2 linked regions of the Homo sapiens genome follow. The protein of the gene in region 2 interacts with the protein of the main gene of each other region in a pairwise test. Each region holds a gene or a part of one and is shown on either strand. Other genes may lie near its edges.

What was found.
Region 1: the proteins of MAGOHB (region 2) and ZNF19 interact in binary tests that used the Homo sapiens proteins (3 or more experiments, as listed by UniProt).

What each region holds. Positions count from the first base shown.
Region 1 is NC_000016.10:71,473,083-71,479,364, forward strand, and holds the end of ZNF19 (zinc finger protein 19), read right to left. Parts: intron 5,924-6,282; coding exon 5,797-5,923; intron 5,260-5,796; coding exon 5,146-5,259; intron 3,191-5,145; coding exon 2,088-3,190; 3' UTR 501-2,087; downstream 1-500. UniProt on the Homo sapiens protein: May be involved in transcriptional regulation.
Region 2 is NC_000012.12:10,603,659-10,610,615, forward strand, and holds the end of MAGOHB (protein mago nashi homolog 2), read right to left. Parts: intron 6,284-6,957; coding exon 6,173-6,283; intron 5,726-6,172; exon of another isoform or gene 5,440-5,725; intron 4,279-5,439; coding exon 4,196-4,278; intron 2,717-4,195; coding exon 2,617-2,716; 3' UTR 535-2,616; downstream 1-534. UniProt on the Homo sapiens protein: Required for pre-mRNA splicing as component of the spliceosome. Plays a redundant role with MAGOH in the exon junction complex and in the nonsense-mediated decay (NMD) pathway.

The DNA.
Region 1 (6,282 bases), on a different chromosome or scaffold from region 2:
GCACACTCTTCATAAAGTTATCATATTGAGTAAATCTGTGTAGTGACTAGGAAAGTGTCTGTCACATGTTAAGTGCCAAAAAAAAATTACTGCTGTTATCATTTACTACAGGGCAGCTGGGCTGATGCAGCAGCATTTGAAGCAGTCCCTGACCATGGTTACTTTAACCAGTTTTTTTTTCTGAGTGGCTTTTAGGTTTTCTGCCTTCAAAAAGATCCCCCTGGAAATAACCCAAATGCCCACCGACAGTAAGCAATAAATTGTGGTATATTCATGTAATGGAATACGACATAGCAATGAGAATGAATCTGTACTGATGATTCCATTGACACAAAAGAACAAAAACAGGCAAAATAATTTCTGGTGATAGAAGTCAGGGTAGAGGTTCCATAAGGACTCTAACAAGGTACAGGAGACTTGTAAGGTCCTATGTTCTATTTATTTATCTTGGTGATTATAAGGCTATGTTCTTTGTAAAAATTCAAGTTGTACAACCATGATTCATGGTTTTATTTTATTTTATTGAGGAATCTCACTCTGTCACCAGGCTGGAGTGCAGTGGTGTAATCTCGGCTCACTACAACCTCCGCCTCCCGGGTTCAAGCAATTCGCCTGCCCCAGCTTCCTGAGCAGCTGGGACTACAGGCATGCACCACCACGCCCAGCTAATTCTTGTATTTTTAGTAGAGACGGGGTTTCACCATGTTGGCCAGGATGGTCTCGATCTCTTGACCTGATGAATCGCCCACCTCGGCCTCCCAAAGTACTGGGATTACAAGTGTGAGCCACCGCGCCTGGCTGACTCATGCATTTTTATGTTTGTGTTATACTTCAATTAAAAGGTGTTTACTCAATTCCCCAAGTCTATCATTCATTGGTCAACCCAAGCACATGATACAACTGCTCATTCATCTGCTGACAAGTAAGGAAGAGGTGGTGAAGCCACCCAGGTGCTAGACGCAGTAAGCAATTAAGTCTGGAATTGGGTAGGGAGATTCCAACACTGGCTGGCAGCGGAAGGACACGTGGGAGAAAAAAAGGGTGCAGTTTGTGTTCATCACCAAAGAAAAGGGCCAGCCCTGTTTTCCTACTGAGAGATCTCTGCAGTGTGTCTTATGACCAAGAACCATGGCATTTCCTTGGCTCCCTAGCCAGGTCAAGGGCAAAGCGGGCGTGCTGTCCTAGGAATTAAAATGGCAAATACCAAGATATAATAGCTACAATAGCCTGGCATTTCTCAGTTTAAGGCCTAGAGTAGCATCCATTCCAAATAAAAAACTGAATAAACAGAAAATGAAAGCTTTAAGAGTGAAAGCTTTTAGTTTCCTAGTTAAGACTTTTCTTGAGAATGGATTCACTGGTGCAGACATAATTTTGTAGTACAATGAGATTTTTGTTACAGAGCTCAAGTTGTTAGAACTTCTATCTACTAGTGGTGTCTGATATAACCTGGGCTCTCCAGTGTTACAGTGGGCTTCCCAATCTCATCACAATCATGGGGTTGAGGAGCTGCCATGACTATAACTAAAGACTTTCCCATATATCATACACACAAAACATTTCTCCATCAGGTATGTTATCCCTGAAAACTTCAAACAACTGCTACAATGACAACACTGTTTAAGTCAAAATTCTGTTCCAAGGCAAGAAAACCTAACTCAGGTGTGCCAAAGCCAAAACCAACCAAACAAAAATGGAATTTATTGGCTGCTGCAATTCAAAAACCCGTATATATTTTTAGCTTCAGGCATGGTGTATGTGGCTGTTCAAACATTATCTTCAGTCTTTTACTGCTCTCCAATTCTCAGATGCATTTTTGCTGTGTGGACTTCATTCTCACCTCTGTAAGAGTCTAGTTCTTCTTCTCAGCATTAAAACCAATGGGGGTGGGCGGGGGGAGAGTATTTGTTCCTATTAGCTCTTGCAATCCTGGGACTCTAATTGAACCATCTTTGGTCATCTACTGACATCTGAATCATTAACTGTGGCTTGAGGGATGGATCAGAGGCTGAGTCAGGCCTGTGTCACACATTCCATTCCTGAGTAGAAGACGGAATCCACTCAGTACATTTCACTGGAGTGTACTATTACCAGTAAAAGGGGGTAAAAAATTCTGGGAGGCCAAAACGACAAATGTCCAGCACAGGCTTCTCTCCAGAGTAGACATGCTCAAGGTGACCTAGCTGGGAAGAAGTCCCAAAGGCCTTCTCATACTTGCTACACTCATAGGGTTTCTCTCCAGTATGGATTCTTTGATGCTGATGAAGATTTCTTTTGCTAGTCAAGGCTTTTCCACACTCATCACATACATAGGAAGACTCCTGAGTATGAATTCTCAGATGCCTTTTTAATTGTTCCTGAGCACTGAAGGCTTTTCCACAATCTACACAGTCAAAGGGTTTCTCCTCACTGTGAATTCTCTGGTGCCGAGTTAGTTTTGTATGAAAATTGAAGGCTTGTCCACATACTTTACAAGAATAAGGCTTTTCCCCTGTGTGAATACGCTGATGTTGGCTTAGATGGGAAGTCCTTCCAAAGCTTTTGCCACACTCATTACACTCATAGGGTTTCTCTCCAGTGTGGATTTTCTGATGCCGAAGTAGGGGTGAATTACCAACAAAAGCTTTGCCACACTCATTACACTCATAGGGTTTCTCCCCAGTGTGGATTCTCTGATGTATAACAAACTCGGAACTACTCGTGAAACTATTCCCACACTCTGTACAGTAATAGGGTCTGTCCCCACTGTGGATTCTCTGATGCCTGATCAGATTTGCATTATCATTAAAGGCTCGCCCACACTCCTCACACTGATAGGGTCTCTCTCCAGTGTGAATCCTCTGGTGCCGAATTAACGAAGAATTACCATTAAAGGCTTTTCCACACTCACTACACTCAAAAGGTTTCTCCCCAGTGTGGATTCTCTGGTGTCTAGCATAGTAAGAAAAGTAGCTGAAGGATTTCCCACACTCCTCACATATGAAAGGTTTCCTTGCACAGGGGATTCTTGGAACCTTTCCTTGGATATTTTTCACTGTGGGGATGTCCTGGTGCTTTTCCACATTACGTGTTTCTGGGAAGTCAGTTCTCTGAGGGACACTCTTCAGCTGACCATGTGACATCATCCCATCTCTTTCTTCAGAAATTCCCTGGATTAATGTGGACTCACTGTCAATGTTGGTCTCAACATCTGACATAAGAGATAGAAAACACAAATAATGCCACCTGAGAACTATACTAGAAATAATAGAGCATTGAAAATGATAAGGCTTTAAAAGAGATCATTTCAACTTTCACATCAGCATGCTGGGAAGAAAAGGCTGTTAAAGTGAAAGTGCCAAATATCACACAGGCAGAGAACATTGAGGTGGAACAGGGTATCAGTGGACACAACACACGAGACTGCTTCCTAAGCTTTTCTACTCTAATATTTGAATGATGTCTGGTCATCCCTGGCATGAGCTAGTATCTTTTGAATTGATGCTACTTACAGCCTACAAAATGCCAAAGAAGGCACAGGTCTTAAGAACAAGTAGTGACATCGGGGCTGGCAAGACTTAGAATCAGAAAGTGAAACAGAACAGTATCAGAAAGCAAAGGCAAAGGATGAATTGTTGTTCTTTTTAAAAACTCATACCCTGCAGATGTCCCAAAAGACTTAAGACACTGAACATTACAGACACTGGGTTGTGGCAAGACAGAGAGAAAGAAAATCACAGAAGTGCTTAGAGAGTATTATTCCCAATATGTTGTAAGATTACCTAGTTCAGAGGTTCTTAACTGCAGAACCACACATGGACTATAGACGATGAGGAAACGCCCTAAAACTGCTGAACCTCAAACATGCAGAGAAACTACTGTCCTAGACTCTCTATTTGAAAAGGGATGAACAGTTTACTTAGACACACCCAGACTGAGAGTATTCTTTCTCCTATCAGCAAAAAGGAGACAAACAGCCCATAAAATGGCATTTGTGTTCCAAAAGATTGGATGACATTTTAAATGAGTTAAAGTCAATCCATTTTATATGAAATGATGGGCTTGGTTTTAACATTAATGTGGGTTACCTGGGACTCATGTGATGGTTAATCAAGTTCATCCTATGAGTGTGAGTTAAAGGAGTAAGGGAACTCCGAAGGAGAATGTTCAGAGGAGAGTAATCTGAGATTGAAGTAAACAAGGTAACCAAGAGTCTGAAAAAGAATAATCACCAGACAGAGGAAGCGTGTGAGAACAAACCAACAGGTTCTCAATTGTCTTGATGATTCTTTTTCAGATTCTTAGAATAAGAGGCTGAAGTGCTGTGCTAGCTTCATTATTTTCCACGTATTTGCTCTCTGCAAACCACCTGCACTGAAACTCCTGCCTCTGCCTTCAATTTCACTGTTTGCTCTTGGTGGCCCCCATCTATTTGACTGTCTACTTTCTCTTCCTTCTCTCACTGAAATTAAATATCCCTTAATGGTTAAGATTCAGCCTTCATTTTTTCTTCCTGGGGATCGTTTCAACCCAGCTGTGTTAGAGTACTGTTTCAGACCTGCCTTTTATCTCAGACTCTCCACCCACCTTCTCAATGGCCTGCTCTAGCCATCCACTTGCCTATTCTAAAGGCACCTCACGCCCTGTGCTCAGCTCTGAATTCCTATGAATTCAAAAAGCTCCTCCCATGCCATGACTTCCTAGTGTTATCTGACTCAGCTCTCCCCATTTATGGCCAACTTTTGGGAAGATCTGGCCCATTTTACCTTCACATTCTCCGTCCCACTCCCAACAGCACTTAATACTTTTCTTTTTCGCTTTTTACATCTGTCTCCATAACTTGTACCTGCCAGAACTTCTTAAACAACGTTCAGCACATGGCAAGTTGCTCAAAAACTGCTCCTGAATAAATCCATCCCAACCAAGGAGGACAACTAAGGTAGGCAATGTTGAAACTCAGAAAGGAACAATGGATTCAAGGATTGCAGATGAGACGTACTGAGTGATTACATGTTGGTAAGAGTTAAGATTGGTGAGAAACGTTTCATATTTTACCTATTAGGTGAAATCATCTATTTTATTTAAATCCTGCCCAGCATGATTCATTTTAAAATACAGTGCTCCATAAAACGCTACAATTGTTGGTTCTAAATCTGCCTCACCTACCTTTACAGACGTTTTTGGTCCTCTCTGCTGGGGGATCATCCTGTGCTTCCAGGCCCCAAGCCATGTCCCCTCTCTCCAAAAGTGAGATCAGTGCAGGTTTGGGAACTGGGTACCCTGAAAACAGGAAGAAAATGGTACTTTTCAGCCCTGTATCTGCTGTGTCAAAAGAAGGAAAACCCCAGGAGTCTCAGTAAGAATAAGACCCACAGAAGAGGGTTCTCGACTGGAGAAGGCCAAAGAGATTCCGATCAACAGGAAACTGAGCATTTGTGACTTCTTCCTAAAAAAAACACTCAAGGATAAGTAAGTCAGTGAGATCCACAAGGCATGAGCAAACACAGGGAAGGGGACATGCCCTTCCCCAGACAACAACTACTACTTATTCCTTACTGTGCAGAGCCTCTTGGAAGATGGAACATACTCTTACCAGGGGACAGTAATTCCCTTCATTGGGAGACCAAAGTGACCCAAGACCTCTCCCTACCCAGCAATCTTTGAAGTTGGTCACTGAGCCTCAGCTCTGCAGTCACTCAGTGGAGGACACAAGAGACAACCTCTCCTCTCCACTCCACACTCCTCCCCCCAGGCTGTAAAAGAAGGAAGGAAACTGGAAAAGTACAGATCTGAGTCCTAGGAGGAAAATGGCCTTACCCAAAGCAGTCAGGTTCCCAAAATTCTCCAACATCACACTTCTGTACAGGGCCCTCTGGGCAGGAGAAAGGCCAGTCCATTCTGTCTTGGTGAAGTGCACAGCCACATCCTCGAAGGTCACCATCTCCTAAAACAACAGGTTCCTGCTGCCCCAGAGCCAATCCTCTGGCTCCGGGCCAGAGTGTGGGGCAGAGGGGACAGGTAGGGACTTGAGGGAAAGTCCTGTGAGGGATAGGTAATGAGAAAATGTGACAGAACTGGATATTAGACCATTATATGACTATTTTTACAACGAAAAATCTGGAACTTCTCTCACTACCAGAAGAGATTCCATTAGGATATAAAATTGACTGTCATAAAATGTGATTTAACATTTTTTAAACCCTAGGAAAAAAAGTCTCTTATTAGTTAACCTTCCTAGGGCAAAAATCTCTTTGATTTAGTAAATATTTTCAGTCTTTTACTTTTGTACCTACAGGTGGACAA
Region 2 (6,957 bases):
CAAATTAGGACAAGGTAGATGCCAGAGATTTTGAGTGGTAGTTATCCAACTTTACTGATCATCATACGGAAGTCAGCCAAGGCAGATTCTGAACTCACCCTCAAATCCTTCATTTACCTTTGTTGTTTATTAAATTTTTAAAATTTTCTATTCGACTTCATTATCCATTCATGCTAGGAATCCAGTTATTAATTAAAGGGGTCAGTGGTTAAACTTACAGCACAGTCCATGCTCATAGGTTCACACATTTCAAATCAAAACGAAGTAGTCTAACAATAGAATATATAAATCATCTCAGTTACATTAATATTTACATTAAAAATATCCATACAAATAGACTCAGCCTGATACCAATGAAATACCAAAGATAAATAATCTAAAGGCAAATAATCTAAGGACAGAGCAAGACAGCAACCAATTCAACAAACTTAAAAAACACCTACTATATGGAAAAGACTGTGCTAGGGTTCTGCACTATCTCATGAATGGGGAAGAGGTGGGATGAGGTGCAGACAGTACTTGGAAAAAGTCTGATTATTTCAAGTGGTCTCTTTATTAAGGAAGGAGGTAAAAGGAACATAACCTGAGCGCAATAAAAATCTAGTTTCATATAAAACTAGTATTATACAAAATTCAGTTTCTAATGATCACTGTCCATCAGCAACTTACAATCAAATAAAAGACAGATCAAAGTATAAGAAAATTGTAGACGGTAATATTTTCCTAATGACCTAGTCTCCCATCTTGGTTTAAATATGAGAAATTCTAGTAGATAGTGGGGATAGAGCTAAATAAACGAAAACGTAAGGAAGTTAGAGAACGGGGACAAAGACTTAAAGATTTTTCAACGTAAGCACTATTTCTCCTCAACCTTGTTCAGTTTTTAATGGATCATCTTATTCAACAGGAGCCACAACCTGTTTTGAGGAACAACCAACAACTGTGGGCCTACTGGAAGTTCAAAAGACGATTGTTCCTGTTTCTGAGGTTGACATCTAAATGCAAGAAAATTACAATACGATTTCATACTGCACAATCATCAAGGTCTACAACTGGAACAGAAACATTTTACATACAAAAGACCTGAAGATGATAGCGTACTTGCATAATGAAGTGGAAATCATTTGACTTTCCATGGCAAACCTGAAGACAATGGGCATGCATTTTGAGGAGTGAAAAGGACCATCTAGTGCTCCATGGCAAACAGGTTACCAAGCCATGCTCTAGAGCTATACTGTCCAAACGGTAGCCGCTAGACACGTGGCTACCTAAATTTAATCAAAATTAAATAGCACTACAAAAAAAGTAGTTTATTGGCACCAATTACACCAGTTAAGTGAAAAACCAAGATTTATTATAATAGAGATATTACAGTAAAAAAGATGTTAAGTATAGAATCTAGGTAGGGGTAGGCATATAGGTGTTCACTTTATAGTTCTCAAGAGTTTTTAATGTTTTATCCTTTTCACGTTAGAAAAAAATTGTTTAAATAGCACCATAAATTCAGTTATACAAGGCACACCTCAAGTAATCAGTAGGCCTCATTTGGCCAGTTGCTACCCTATTGGACTGCACATAGAACGTTTCCATTATTGCAAAAAAGTTATTGGACTGCCCGACTCTAGAGCCTACCTGCTCAGGAGTCCTGGCAAGCCTTCAGAAACTAATTATTCCACCCAAAATTCAGTGCTAACTTGTTCCTAGGGCAAGTGGATTATAACTACTGGAACAGTGCAACTTTTTAAGAGTGGGGCTTCAGATGGAAGAATAAAAGGAAACAAGGAACATGGTTACTAAAAGTAATGAAAGAGGAAATCTATCAGAAAGAGGTTGAAAGGAACTGGGAAACTGAAGTGAGACTCGTGGTCAATAGGAGTTAAAAATATTTATGTACATTCATACATACATATATGTTTGTCTAAATGTTTAACAATTTATAAAGCTGAAAACTCATTTAGTTCTCCCCCCTCCCCTACACACCAAATACATTGTGAAATAAGGAATAAAGACATAATCAAAGATATGCCTAACATGGGGTAGACTGTACTCTTGTAACACTTTAGGACCTCACTGCTTATAACTGAAAATATTTAAATGTGAATAATCCCTGAGGGGTTTGTCATAACTGTAAAAAAAAACTAGACCTTGTATAAGCCCCCCAAAATTAAATCCAATCATGTATGAAGGAAATAAGGGACAATCTACACTTGCCTTTCATGGATGGGAATCTGGCTACATAGTTCCACCTAAAGTATCTTCTGTCACAGGATATATCTACCAGAACAATTTCTTATTATCTCTAAAGTGAATTAGAGACATAGCCTCCTGGAAAAAACAAAAAACTACTCTGCAACCAGGATTTGGTATGTTTTATTAGAGCAAATTTTTAACAAAAGGTGGCTTTCATTTACAGAATTTAATGTGTGTGGGGACTGTCCAACCCATATGGACTCAAGTAAGGATAACCATTAAGCTTGCTAATGTATTTTCTTATTTTCAGTTTACATACAAATTTTTTTTGTTTGCTTCACATTCATAAAAACCCCAATACTGTAAATGACAAATAACCCCTCCCATCCCTTAATTAAATATACAAACAGCCTGAAAACATACAATTTAAATTGGTTTAATCTTGAAGTGTAATCCAATAAGACTGAAAACTAAACATTTCAAGTCTTGTACCAAATAGTAAAATACTCGAAGGCCTTCAGGATCCCTAAAATTTAAAAAGGTAAAAGTTACTTTTTCTTCCTAGGATAAAACAATTCTTTAAATGCCTAAAACAAAACAAATCAAAATCTCATAACAATTAAGTTAACAAAATTTAGGAGAAAGGAAGGATTTTGCTGACAACTAAAATGAACATACAATTAATATCTTTTCTATACGAAAAAATAGTTTCTTCATCAGTATTCATTTTAGTATTTAAAGAGTTCATATCCTTATGATTGTAATAACCACATCATAAAAATGTCTAATAAAGCAGAAAAAAATAATACTGTAATGCTACCATTTCATAGAATAACTATAAACATTTTGATGTTTCTCTATTTTTTAATAACTAAAATTATTCCTTGTGCCCTTTTTTACATTACTTTCCCCACAGCATTAAAAAAAAAAAATTCCCTAGTAATTTTTAATTAATTTAATAATTCTCTCCTTGTTAGACACTGGGGTTAATTTCCTATTATAAATAATACTTCAATGAGCATCTTCATGCATAATAAAGCTTTTCCAATATTTAGGAATAGTTCCATAGAAGAGATGCTCAGAAATGAAATTACTAGGCCAAAGGTGAATGAAAAATGTCAACAGTTTTTGATGCATATTACCAAACTGCTTTCCAAAAACCATTACCAATTTATAATCCCAGTAGGGTATCAATGCCACACCCTTACCAAATGTAGGAAAAGAAATTTGATAGTTTAAAAGCATTTGGATGGTCTTTGTGAACACAGATTTTGCGTCCAATAGTTATCATGCATTCATTCCTTTCTCCTTTCCACTAACAAATATTTATTGAAAGCATCTATTATGTGCAGGGCACTATGCTAACTCTGTGGATACAGCAAGGTTCTCAAGGAGCTTACATTCAAACCAGTAAAGCAGACAAATAGGTTATTACAATTCAGGGTGACAGAAAAAAGTAAGAGCACTATGGGGACACTTTGAGGGGAATGGGCACAAATAAAAATAAGTGGCTAGGATCAGACCAAGAAAATGGGATGTGCTACAAAACCCTGGGGCAGAGGAGAGACAGATCTTGGGAAGACATCGATAGCTAAAGCATACTTAGGCCATAATGGATTTTTTCCATCTTTTTCCCAAGTATTGAGCCCAAGAAGGACAGTGAGATGATATAGGCCTAATGAGGCTGACATAATCCAATAAGGATTTCTTTCCTTTGGATTTGCTGATACTGTATCCACATTTTTATACAAAGTAGCTAATACAACTTGGGCATTATTATATACAGCTGTTGGATTAAAAGTTTTTGGACAATCAATGAAATACTCTGCTAACTTCTACTGAGAGACAAGATAATAAGCCTTTAATGACATAAAAATCAGGATTACATCTGCATAATAAACTGATAGGATGCCACTGAAATTATCTTGGCTAGCAAACTGACTATAGTTCTAAAATGAGCCTCTGTAATAATGAAAACTTCGCCAAAATGCTTTAACATACTTACTTTGACTGATTTACATCAATAAGAGAACCTATTTTTGATGTGGTAAAAGATATGTGCTCATCTCCAATTACAATTTCAAGCTCCTAAAAAATATAGCAGAAAAATGTAGTTAATATAAAAATCTATCCCAGAGGTATCTGTATTCTTGCTACAAGCAGATCCCAATTTTAGTTGCAAGTTTTCTAGCAGCCAACAGAGGGAGTGGGGGGCGAGGGGGAAAGAAACATGGTTTCTTAGATATAAACTATATCCTTAAAATAAAGACTGCTCACGCGCACTACCCCCAAGTTTAGGACCAACAAAGAATTGCTTTCCAGAGACATAAAGAAGACACTATGAAACAAAATGACAAAGAAATATTTCTTACAATGTCAGTAAAAACTAAAGACATCACTTTGAAGCACATGTTGTAAAAATGATTGGAGTATAAGACCATTTTTAATATGATAAATACACATTTTTTCTTTCTGGAAGATTCTACAAATAAAATGTGTAATATTAATAACCACCACCACTTTAGCACCTACTGTATGTCAGGCCCTAGTGGTAGGGACTTTGTACTCTCTGTAATCTTGAAAATAACCTTACTAACCTATTTTACAAATGTGTAATCCAAAACTCATAGAGCAGAAGAAAATACTTGTTGATATTTATAACCACTAATAATGATGGTACTTATATTTGATCCCAAGATGGTAAGACTTCAAAACTAATACTCCACAAAATAACTAAAATTAAGAACTAGTAAAAAAAAAAAAAAAAAACCAACCTAATGTAGATGTTCCTAGTGTGCTGTAATTACTGTATAGATTTTTCCCTATATTGTTTATCTGCAGGCCTAAAACCAATAATTAAAAAGCTATATCTGTAATGAATCTTCAAGTTAACAGACACTATTGAAGACAATCCTAGCTATTTATTTAATCAGAGGCCTAATTATGCAGTTTATGACACACACAGAATGGAGAATTAGCTAAGATGCTCTAACAGCCATAAAACCTTTGACTTGATACAAAAGGCAATTTCTGAAGCATGCCTACTCCTCCCCACTAACCAAAACCCATGAACACATCCTTAAGTGAATAGATAAAATACTAGGCTCTCCCTGAGTCTAAATGATATAAAAGGTTAGCTGCTGTGGTTTGCTTTTTAGTACATATGTGTATCTGCATAAAACAAACTGAGGCCTAAATTTACTTTTTAAAAGTGATACGATGCTTAAAATAAATACTGTTAACTATTACCTTTGCTTTTCTAAATAATGCTTCTTTAAGCAGAAGACTTAAGTTACTCCTACAGAGTGTCAGCATGTGTTAGATTTCTCCACATTTTCTTCTATTCAAAGAAGGTGATACAAAGTACAATCCTCAGGGATATACAAAAGTGAAATTAAATGTTTCTTCCTTCCAGGGGTTGTTGAAGGAATTTCTCCAAGAGTTGAAAAGACCCAATTCAGAAACCAAACTTTCTTTTTACAGAGTGAAATTAGGCCTTCAGAGTTCTTCAGAAGCCTGAGAAACATCATTTATTCTGAAGGAATATGAGAGGGAAATGCAATCATCAGTTTTAACAAAGAAACCACCAATCAAGTTTCTCTCTGGGGTATAGGGATGCAAGTAAGAATTTTAGAAGTTATGATTTGGCAAAAATAAATTTTACATAGTCATATTCTTAATAAAAGTGATTAACACACAACAGAAATTATTCATAACACTGCATTGTGAAAACATCCTAACGTTGGCTGGGGTGACTACAGAGAAAGATGTCTAAATTTAGAGCTATGCACTGACTCCTTCACTACTAGGAGGTAGCACAGAAAAACAGAACTAAGAGATAAAATTAAAGAGAATTTACCAGGTGCCTATTAAATAGAAAGCCAAAGAATCAACTTAGACTCATTCCAAATAAATAACGGGAAACAAAATAGTATTATCAATTTTTAATATTTATACACTTAAAGAATCACTAAATACAAACCTGTCGGCCAACCCTATCAGGGGGAGGCCACAAAGCATCATCTTCTTTTGTAATTTCACTGTCATCAATAATTCTCTTCAGTTCTTCCATTACACTCTTGTGCACATAAGCCTAAAAATTAATCATAATAAAATGAGATAATGCCCACCTATGTCACCCCTCAACTCAGAAAGAAATGAGTTACAAACCCTGAATATCCAAATAGAGGAATATAGAAAAATTTAATTGATTCCAAAAGTAGAGGAGACAGAATCACTTATCCTTGTTACACTGCTTTTCTTCATCTCTTGCCCTTTCCTTTCACATACATTTTTTCCCTCTTCTCATCATTACCTGTCTTTCAAACACTGTATTCTGCCTTTGCAACACTGAGATCCAAATACCCACAAGTGGTTAACTTGTGTCATCACAAGATCTATAAGGTGAACTGTAATAAATGCAAGTATACTGAGGCAGGAGAATCGCTTGAGCCTGGGAGGCAGAGGTTGCAGTGAGCTGAGATCAAGCCACTGCACTCCAGCTTGGGTAACAGAGCGAGACTCTGTCCCTAAATCAATAAATCAATAAATGCAAGTGTAGTTCACGTCAAGGTTAGTTCTCTGAACTTTCTCATTCCTATGGATGCAAACACTGTATCTAATTTAAATGGAAACTCTTTCAATCTATAAATTGCCTTCTTCTTTACAATATAGCCTTAGATGTACTTTTTTAAATTCAACACAGACTTGAAGAAAATGGGCTAAATGCAAAAAAAAAAAAAAAAAAAAAAAAGACATTCACATAGA